3 linked regions of the Homo sapiens genome follow. The protein of the gene in region 2 interacts with the protein of the main gene of each other region in a pairwise test. Each region holds a gene or a part of one and is shown on either strand. Other genes may lie near its edges.

What was found.
Region 1: the proteins of DYRK1B (region 2) and RBL1 interact in binary tests that used the Homo sapiens proteins (3 or more experiments, as listed by UniProt).
Region 3: the proteins of DYRK1B (region 2) and TROAP interact in binary tests that used the Homo sapiens proteins (3 or more experiments, as listed by UniProt).

The regions. Positions count from the first base shown.
Region 1 is NC_000020.11:37,068,373-37,072,025, reverse strand, and holds part of RBL1 (retinoblastoma-like protein 1), read left to right. Parts: intron 1-3,653. UniProt on the Homo sapiens protein: Key regulator of entry into cell division. Directly involved in heterochromatin formation by maintaining overall chromatin structure and, in particular, that of constitutive heterochromatin by stabilizing histone methylation.
Region 2 is NC_000019.10:39,827,999-39,831,307, reverse strand, and holds part of DYRK1B (dual specificity tyrosine-phosphorylation-regulated kinase 1B), read left to right. Parts: intron 1-524; coding exon 525-644; intron 645-744; coding exon 745-933; intron 934-1,280; coding exon 1,281-1,428; intron 1,429-1,505; exon of another isoform or gene 1,506-1,592; intron 1,593-2,724; coding exon 2,725-3,011; intron 3,012-3,309.
Region 3 is NC_000012.12:49,326,133-49,329,273, forward strand, and holds part of TROAP (tastin), read left to right. Parts: coding exon 1-26; intron 27-535; coding exon 536-588; intron 589-1,076; coding exon 1,077-1,198; intron 1,199-2,794; coding exon 2,795-2,923; intron 2,924-3,028; coding exon 3,029-3,112; intron 3,113-3,141. UniProt on the Homo sapiens protein: Could be involved with bystin and trophinin in a cell adhesion molecule complex that mediates an initial attachment of the blastocyst to uterine epithelial cells at the time of the embryo implantation.

The sequences.
Region 1 (3,653 bases), on a different chromosome or scaffold from region 2:
GTATTAGGACGTTTTACGTTGCTATGAAGGAATACCTGAGGTTGGGTGACTTATTTAAAAAAAGAGATTTATTTGGCCCAGGGTTCTGCAGGCCGTATAGGAAGCATGGGGCTGGCATCTGCTCCTGGTGAGGGCCTCAGGAAGTTTACAGTCACGGTAGGTGAAGGGGGAGGAGGCACATCACATGATGAGAGCAGGAGCAATTGAGGGTGGGAAGTGCCACACTTTTAAACAGCCAGATCTCAGGTGAGTGACAACTAAACTCACTACCATGAGGAGAGCACCAAGCCATTCATGAGGGATCTGCTCCCATGACCCAAACACCTCCCACTAGGCCCACCTCCAACATTGGAGGTCACGTTTCTTTTTTATTTTTTTGAGACGGGCTTTCACTCTCTTGCCCAGGCAGTAGCATGTTCATGACTCACTGCAGCTTCAACCCCTCAGGCTCAAGTGATCCTCCTGCCTCAGCTTCCTGAGTAGCTGGGCCCACAGTCACACACCACCATGCTTTGCTAACTTTTAAATTTTTTGTAGAGACGAGATCTCACTGTGTTGCCCAAGCTGGTCTCAAACTGGTGGGCTCAGGTGATCCTCCAGCCTCACCCTCCCAAAGTGTTGGGATTACAGGCATGAGCTACCATGCCCAGCCAAGGAAATTACATTGCAACATGAGATTTGGAGGGGACAAAACATCCAAACCACATTAAATAGCTTTGGATGATTTGCTATTAATGTCTTCTGTCACCTTAAAAAGAAATTATAAGTATTGGCCAGGCGAAATGGACTCAAGTAAGCCTTTCCAATCTACATGAAATAATCAGAACATAGGGCCGAGTGCAGTGGTTCATGCCTGTAATCCCAGCACTTTGGGAGGCCGAGGCAGGTGGATCATCTGAGGTCAGGAGTTCAAGACCATCCTGGCAAACATGGTGAAACCTTGTCTCTACTAAAAATACAAAAATTAGCTAGGCATGGTGGTGTGCACCTGTAGTCCCAGCTGTCAGGAGGTAGAGGCAGGAAAATTGCTTGAAGCTGGGATGCAGAGGTTGCAGTGAGCCAAGATCATGCCACTGCACTCCAGCCTGGGTGACAGACTGAGACTCCATCTCAAAAAAAAAAAATTACAAGTATTATTCTGTATATATTGCTAGACCTTTAATTAAGTGAGCTTTGACATGACAAGTTTTCTATCTAAGACCACGTTAACATAGGGACATAAAAAAATGTACCCAGAATTGGCCTGGGCACGGTGGCTTGCTTGAACACAGGAGGTGGAAGTTGCAGTAAACCAAGGTGGTGCCACTGCACTCCAACCTGGGCACCAGAACTATTAAGTTTTTTTCTGAGTATGTGCTACCTTCTTTACTTTTGGTTGTGGAACCACACATTGGAACTCAAACTCTTGAATTTTACTCCTAACCTGTAACAATCTGGTGCTTTGTAATCAAATTCCCATTTGGAAAATGGAATTGTCTTTCCATTTGGGAGACTTCTGTTTTCCCTCAAACTAATTTTATTTTATTTTATGTTTTTTTTTTTAAATTTATTTATTTTTTATTGATAATTCTCGGGTGTTTCTCACAGAGGGGGATTTGGCAGGGTCATAGGACAATAGTGGAGGGAAGGTCAGCAGATAAACAAGTGAACAAAGGTCTCTGGTTTTCCTAGGCAGAGGACCCTGCGGCCTTCCGCGGTGTTTGTGTCCCTGGGAACTTGCGATTAGGGAGTGGTGATGACTCTTAAGGAGCATGCTGCCTTCAAGCATCTGTTTAACAAAGCACATCTTGCACCGCCCTTAATCCATTTAACCCTGAGTGGACACAGCACTTGTTTCAGAGAGCACAGGGTTGGGGGTAAGGTCACAGATCAACAGGATCCCACGGCAGAAGAAGTTTTCTTAGTACAGAACAAAATGAAAAGTCTCCCATGTCTACTTCTTTCTACACAGACACGGCAACCATTCGATTTCTCAATCTTTTCCCCACCTTTCCCGCCCTTCTATTCCACAAAGCCGCCATTGTCATCCTGGCCCGTTCTCAATGAGCTGTTGGGCACACCTCCCAGACGGGGTGGTGGCCGGGCAGAGGGGCTCCTCACTTCCCAGTAGGGGCAGCTGGGCAGAGGCGCCCCTCACCTCCTGGACGGGGCGGCTGGCCGGGCGGGGGGCTGACCCCCCCACCTCCCTCCCGGACAGGGCGGCTGGCCTGGCAGGGGGCTGACCCCCCCACCTCCCTCCCGGATGGGGGTGCTGGCCTGGCGGGGGGCTGACCCCCCCCACCTCCCTCCCGGACTGGGTGGCTGCCAGGCGGAGACGCTCCTCACTTCCCAGACTGGGTGGCTGTCGGGCGGAGAGGCTCCTCACTTCTCAGACGGGGCGGCTGCCGGGCGGAGGGGCTCCTCACTTCTCAGACGGGGCGGTTGCCGGGCAGAGGGTCTCCTCACTTCTCAGACGGGGCGGCCGGGCAGAGATGCTCCTCACCTCCCAGACGGGGTCGCAGCCGGGCAGAGGTGCTCCTCACATCCCAGACGGGGTGGCGGGGCAGAGGCGCTCCCCACATCTCAGACGATGGGCGGCTGGGCAGAGACGCTCCTCACTTCCTAGATGGGATGGCGGCGAGGAAGAGGTGCTCCTCACTTCCTAGGTGGGATGGCGGCCGGGCGGAGACGCTCCTCACTTTCCAGACTGGGCAGCCAGGCAGAGGGGCTCCTCACATCCCAGACGATGGGCGGCCAGGCAGAGACGCTCCTCACTTCCCAGACGGGGTGGCAGCTGGGCAGAGGCTGCAATCTTGGCACTTTGGGAGGCCAAGGCAGGCGGCTGGGAGGTGGAGGTTGTAGCGAGCCGAGATCACGCCACTGCACTCCAGCCTGGGCACCATTGAGCACTGAGTGAACCAGACTCCGTCTGCAATCCCGGCACCTCGGGAGGCCGAGGCTGGCGGATCACTTGCGGTTAGGGGCTGGAGACCGGCCTGGCCAACACAGCGAAACCCCGTCTCCACCAAAACCAGTCAGGCGTGGCGGCCCGAGCCTGCAATCGCAGGCACTCGGCAGGCTGAGTCAGGAGAATCAGGCAGGGAGGTTGCAGTGAGCCGAGATGGCAGCAGTACAGTCCAGCTTCGGCTCAGCATGAGAGGGAGACCGTGGAAAGAGAGGGAGAGGGAGACCGTGGGGAGAGGGAGAGGGAGAGCTCCTAATTTTGTATTTGTAGTAGAGACGGGGTTTCTTCATGTTGCTCAGGCTGTGTCTTGAACTCCCGATCTCAGGTGATCTCAAACTAATTTTATAACCTGTCAATCTGTTAACTAACATTAACTTTGTAAATTTTATGCAAAATATTGTCTAGGTAATATAGAGAATAAAGGAAGTAGATAGGTGCTCTCGCTCCCTCCATAGCAGTAAACTCTATGTGATGACCACTAATTAATAACCTGTATTCCCCTGGTGATCCTGGGAACGAAAGTGATTTCATAGTGAGGACTTTTTTTTTTTAATTAAATTTAGGCTTGAGGGATGGTGTTTGTTCTTTGTTCATGTAAGACAGTGTCTTGCTTTGTCACCCGGGCTGGAGTACATGATTGAGGCTAACTGCAGTCTCGACATCCTGGGCTCAAGCAATTCTCCCACCTCAGCCTCCCAAGTACCTGGGG
Region 2 (3,309 bases):
GAAGGCAGTGACATGCAGAGCTTGAAGCAGGATGAAGTGGGAGGTCCAGGGGCCAGATCCAGATCCAAGAGCCTTGGGGTGAAAGAACTGTGCAAAGAGTTGGTGGGAGTATGGGTTGAGGCCCAAGGGATGAGGGTAAATTGAGATAGAGGTACTTCAGAGGGTACCCAAAATGGCTGGCTTCAAAGTGAAGAATGGGGAGGAACAGAGCCCAGGTTTTCCATATGATCTCTCCCTCTGAGGTTCAGAAAGGAGTAAAGGTGAGGGGTGAAAGGTCAGAGTTCACTCATTCACACCACAGATCTCTAAGAGCATCCATTGTGTGCCAGGCCCTGCTGTAGGCACTGGAGGTATAGTAAGAACAAGAGAAAGTCTCAGCCCTGGGGGAGTTTCTTTCCTAGACAGGTGGAACAAATACAGACAGCAACCAAATACATGATGTGCCAGCAGCCCTTACAGTTCTTCCTCTTGAGGTCGGAGGTGAAGGCACGTCCTCAGTGCCCACCCCTCACCCTGCCCTGCAGGTATTGCCTGATGTGCGGCTACTGCCTCGGAGGCTGCCCCTGGCCTTCCGGGATGCAACCTCAGCCCCGCTGCGTAAGCTCTCTGTGGACCTCATCAAGACCTACAAGCACATCAATGAGGTGGGCAGGGGCTGGGGGATCCTGGGCTGGGTGCCGAGGGTCTTGTCTGCTGGCATGAGTCACTCACCAGTCCCCATCTCCTGGCTGGCTGGCTGGGCAGGTATACTATGCGAAGAAGAAGCGGCGGGCCCAGCAGGCGCCACCCCAGGATTCGAGCAACAAGAAGGAGAAGAAGGTCCTGAACCATGGTTATGATGACGACAACCATGACTACATCGTGCGCAGTGGCGAGCGCTGGCTGGAGCGCTACGAAATTGACTCGCTCATTGGCAAAGGCTCCTTTGGCCAGGTGTGGGACACCCCCCACCACCCTGATCCAAGGCCCCACTAACATTGATCACACACCCAGTGGTTCAGTGGCTTCAAGTCCCATGCTGGGCCACTCACCCTAGCCCACTTAGTTTCCCTGTGCCTCAGTCGCCTTTTCTGTAAAACAGTTTAAATAACAAGACTCAACATAAGGTCGTTATGTTATTTCACATCCAGTGTTTACACCAGCGCCTGACTAATGGTGCGCACTCAGCTGCGAAGTATGCATAGTGTTCTTGGTGGGTCTCCTTGCCTGGAGGGAGAAGAATGGTGCCTGGCTCTGCCCTGCTCCCACCCCTTTCTTCGTGACATGCCCTGCCCCAACAGGTGGTGAAAGCCTATGATCATCAGACCCAGGAGCTTGTGGCCATCAAGATCATCAAGAACAAAAAGGCTTTCCTGAACCAGGCCCAGATTGAGCTGCGGCTGCTGGAGCTGATGAACCAGCATGACACGGAGATGAAGTACTATATAGGTGAGGCCTGGGACTGGCAGGGCTGTGGGCACCTGGGATAGCGGGAGCTGGAGCCAGTAGGGATGGGTCACACCCCCGCCCTACTCTCAGGAGGAGGCTGATGTCTTCAGAGCAGGGTTTGGTCTGTGCTTCTCTGACATCAGTGATTCTCCTGCTGCTTTTATGATTTTTGTCCTATTTTCTTGGTAATGGTCAGAGGTTACTGAGTGCTCACCAAGGGCCAGGCTCTCTTGGAAGCACTTGGAAGTTAACTCACCACAGCCCATAAGGGGAAGGGCATTATTAACAACATCTTGAAGATAAGAAACCTGGGCTTCCATCCTAGTTTCTTCTTCAATAAAACAAACAAAACGGGCTGGGCACAGTGGCTCACGCCTGTAATCCCAGCACTTTTGGAGGCCGAGGTGGGCGGATCATGATATCAAGAGATCGAGACCATCCTGGCCAACATGGTGAAACCCCGTCTCTACTAAAAATGTGAAAAAATTAGCTTGATGTGGTGGTGCGCGCCTGTAGTCCCAGCTACTCAGGAGGCTGAGGCAGGAGAATCGCTTGAACCTGGGAGGCGGAGGTTACAGTGAGCTGGGACCACGCCACTGCACTCCAGCCTGATGACAGAGCGAGACTCCATCTCAAAAAAAAAAAAACCCAAAACAAACAAAAAACCAAACCTAATAACAACAACAACAGTTACAACAACAACAAAAAAAAACGAAGAAAGGAAAAAAGAAACTCAGGCATTCAAGTGCTGTCACTTGCATGAGGTGGCAGTTTGTACTAATTGAGCTATAATTTGATGAGGTCGTGGACTCCAGAGCTGTTACTCTTAACATCTGTGCCAGTCTTTCTCCTCCCTTAAACTGATTCCTGCTCATGGACATAAACATCACAACATAATCATAAACAGCAAGTGGATTTTAAAATGGTTTCGTTTGAAAGGAAAACGTATATCCTTAAAGTAAACGGAAAACCAGTGTCCTTTGCCACAAAAATGAATACAAGGGAGATGAAAGCAGTGTTATGAAATTAAATGAGGAAGTGTAGAATGTGTTAGAGCTAGTAGTAACTAATGAAACTTTCTCTTTGGTTTAATTGGAGGGTTTGACAGAGACTTGGAAAGAGCATTAACTTCCTGTGTGAATCTAGTTGTTAGATAAAAAGATTTTGACTAGCAGATGGTACCCGTGGGGACAGCACAATGTGGCTAGTAATCAAAGAGCGTTGTATGACCCCAGGCCACCACCTGCCCTCTCTGAGCCGTTTCTTCTCTGGCCCATTTCCTCCCCTCCCCCGCAGTACACCTGAAGCGGCACTTCATGTTCCGGAACCACCTGTGCCTGGTATTTGAGCTGCTGTCCTACAACCTGTACGACCTCCTGCGCAACACCCACTTCCGCGGCGTCTCGCTGAACCTGACCCGGAAGCTGGCGCAGCAGCTCTGCACGGCACTGCTCTTTCTGGCCACGCCTGAGCTCAGCATCATTCACTGCGACCTCAAGCCCGAAAACATCTTGCTGTGCAACCCCAAGCGCAGCGCCATCAAGATTGTGGACTTCGGCAGCTCCTGCCAGCTTGGCCAGAGGGTAGGGGGCGGCCCGGTCCTGGGAGCACGGCTAGTAGTTTGGGTGGGGCAGAGCCAACGGGAGGCTTAGGGGCGGGGCTTGGCTGGGATGGGATTATTAGGAGCCGTGGGAACTGAGGGATAATGCTTGGGGTGGGGGTGTGAATATACTGCCCACTAGGATGGGAAGGGTGAAGCCTGAGGGGCAGGGCCCATTTTGAAGCTGCCAGATGTGAACAGGGTGAAGTTGGGTTGGGTTTGAGCCAGGGGTGCTGCCTCGCTAAGTTTTTGTCTTCTCTGTTCTTAAAGCTGAGGATGGA
Region 3 (3,141 bases), on a different chromosome or scaffold from region 2:
AGAAGGGAGACAGCTGGCAGCAGCCGGTGAGAAAGGAGAGGGTGTGGGAGAAGGTCATCTGGAAAAGAATGAACCAGTGTCTGATACAGGAGTCCCCCAGAGTTGGGGCCTTCCAGGAGCTTTAGGACTCCCCACCAACTCAGGAGGGGAAGCAAGAAACCTGTGATTACCCGGGATGAGCCCTTGGGATAGGGTTCAGGCTTTCACAGCCAGGCCTCAGTGTGACATCAGTTTACTCAAGTCATGGGGGGACAGGGAGGACAGAAATGTGCTATCTCTTTTGTTTAGTGGCTAGAGTATAGACTGTGGCAATAAGTGGGATTTGGGTTTATATCCTAACTCTTAACACTTACTATTTGTGCAAGCTTGCCTTCACCTCTCTGAGCTTTGGTTTCTTTGTCAAGTGAGAATAACATTTGTACCATCATTAGTTGTCATGAGAATGAAATGAGATGATGTTTGTAAAGCACTTAGCACATGTCCAGCTCATACTTGGTATTCAGTGACTGCTGGCTAATGTCCTTATTGTCATCAGGACTTCAGTGAGCCAGGCCTCAGGATTGCTCCTGGAGACCCCAGTCCAGCCTGGTAAGTGTTTCTGGCGTGGGGAGAGAACAGGGGCAGTTGGGCTGCCTGAAGCAGGGAACAAGACCAGAGAAAACTCAGCAGGCTGGGAGGGAGCATGAGGAAGTGGGAGGCCGGGAGGCTAGGTCAGAAGGAGAAGGAGAAGAGACCTTCTAGATAGGCCAGCGATTGGCACAGTTGCACTTTTGTCTAAGGAGATGGTCTCCATTTCGGCCCTCTCTCTGCCACTTCCTGCAAGATTTATCTTCCACTCACTGTTTATCCCCAGCCCCTAAGTGCCATCACCACATCCCCAGCCTACTCAGACGTTCAGATTAATAAGTGTTTACTGAGATAGTGTTGGGTGTTGAGGGGCTGCTGGATGGGTTCCTGTCCCTAATAGTGCAATGGGGCCTATTAAACTAATATACCCTCTTCAGAAGTTGCAGAACACTGTGCCAAACTTTGGTGGGTGTTCTAGAGTCTACAACAAATGTCCTGTTTCTTCCTAGCTTTCTCTCTTCCTAAAGGAGAACGCGAGGTTGTCACTCACTCAGATGAAGGAGGTGTGGCCTCTCTTGGTCTGGCCCAGCGAGTACCATTAAGAGAAAACCGAGAAATGTCACATACCAGGGTGAGATGCGACTCTCCTGGGATGGTGGGTGGGAGGTGCAGGAGTTGCTTGGAAGAATTTTGCTGCAGCAGCCAACACTGAGAATTGTAGGTAGAGCCAGGAAGTCCTGGGCCTCAGGATGTTACTGGGTAGGTTTACCCCAGATGCACCCAGTCCCTCTCCAATGTGAGACTGACCTCTCTTTATCAGATGTCTGGGGCCTAGGGTGAGAGGTCATATTTGTATCACCATCAGATCAGTGCTAAGGGTGAGACAGATCTGACACTTGTCAGCCAAAAGCATTCATCCCTTGGCTCCACAAATATTTACTGAGTAGCACCAGCCTACTGAGTGCCAGGCTCTGTTCTAGGCTCTGGACATATAGCAGTAAACAAGTTCATATTCTAGAAGGGGGAGACAAGAAATAAACACAGGTATAAAATAAATAGTGTCTCAGATGATGGTAAGTTCTCTCTAAAATAATAATAATAATAATAATAAGGCACTAAAGGAGAATTGGGAGCAGGGGAGTTGGTATTGCAATTTAAAATAGATTTGTCAGGGAACTCTTACTGAGAAGATGATGTTTAAGTGAAGACCAGGGGTTGGAGGAGGAGTGAGATATGTTGATATCTGGGGGAAGGAACATTCCAGGCCAAGAGAACTGAAGAGGTAAAGGCCCTGGGGAGGGAATGTGCCTGGTGTGTTTGAGGATCAGCAAAAAGGAGAGGCCAGTGAGATTGAAGCAGAGTAAGAAGAACAGTAGGAGATAGGGTTTTAGCGATAACACGATCAGATTGGGTAAGGAATTGTACACCAGTGTAAGTCTTTGGCTTGTCTTGGAATGAGTGGAAAGCCATGGGGAGAGGGGTTGATCAAGAAAGTGACATGATTTGACTTAGGTCTTTTTTTTTTTTTTTTTTTTTTTTTTTGAGATGGAGTTTCACTCTTGTTGCCCAGGCTGGAGTGCAATGGCACGATCTCCGCTCATTGCAACCTCTGCCTCCTGGGTTCAAGTGATTCTCCTGCCTCAGCCTCCGAGTAGCTGGGAATACAGGCATGCACCACCACGCCTGGCTAATTTTGTATTTTTAGTAGAGACAGGATTTCTCCATGTTGGTCAAGCTGGTCTCAAACTCCTGACCTCAGGTGCTCCACCCTCCTCGGCTTCCCGAAGTGCTGGGATTACAGGCCTGAGCCACCATGCCCGGCTTGACTTAGGTCTTAAAAGAATCACACTGGCTGCTGTAGTGAGAACACGATATAGGAAGACAGCCAGGCGTGGTGGCTTACTCCTGTAATCCCAGCACTTTGGGAGGCCGAGGCGGGCAGATCACGAGGTCAGGAGATCGAGACCATCCTGGCTAACATGGTGAAACCCCATCTCTACTAAATATACAAAAAATTAGCCGGGCATGGTGGCGGGCACCTGTAGTCCCAGCTACTCGGGAGGCTGAGGCAGGAGAATGGTGTGAACCCGGGATGCGGAGCTTGCAGTGAGCCAAGATCGCGCCACTGGACTCCATCCTGGGTGACAGAGCGAGACTCCGTATCAAAAAAAAAAATAGGAAGACAAAGGGGGCGGGGATCACTCTTCCACCTTTTTCTTCTTCACAGGACAGCCATGACTCCCACCTGATGCCCTCCCCTGCCCCTGTGGCCCAGCCCTTGCCTGGCCATGTGGTGCCATGTCCATCACCCTTTGGACGGGCTCAGCGTGTACCCTCCCCAGGCCCTCCAACTCTGGTTTGTGTCAACAACTGGGGGCTGGGCAGGGGCAGAACAGTCTGGCCGGAGATCCTTGCTATGTCTGGGTTTTGTCCCTGCTCAGCCACCCACATCTCTCCCCAGACCTCATATTCAGTGTTGCGGCGTCTCACCGTTCAACCTAAAACCCGGTTCACACCCATGCCATCAACCCCCAGAGTTCAGCAGGTAAGAGAGGGCATGGAGAGGTGGCTGGC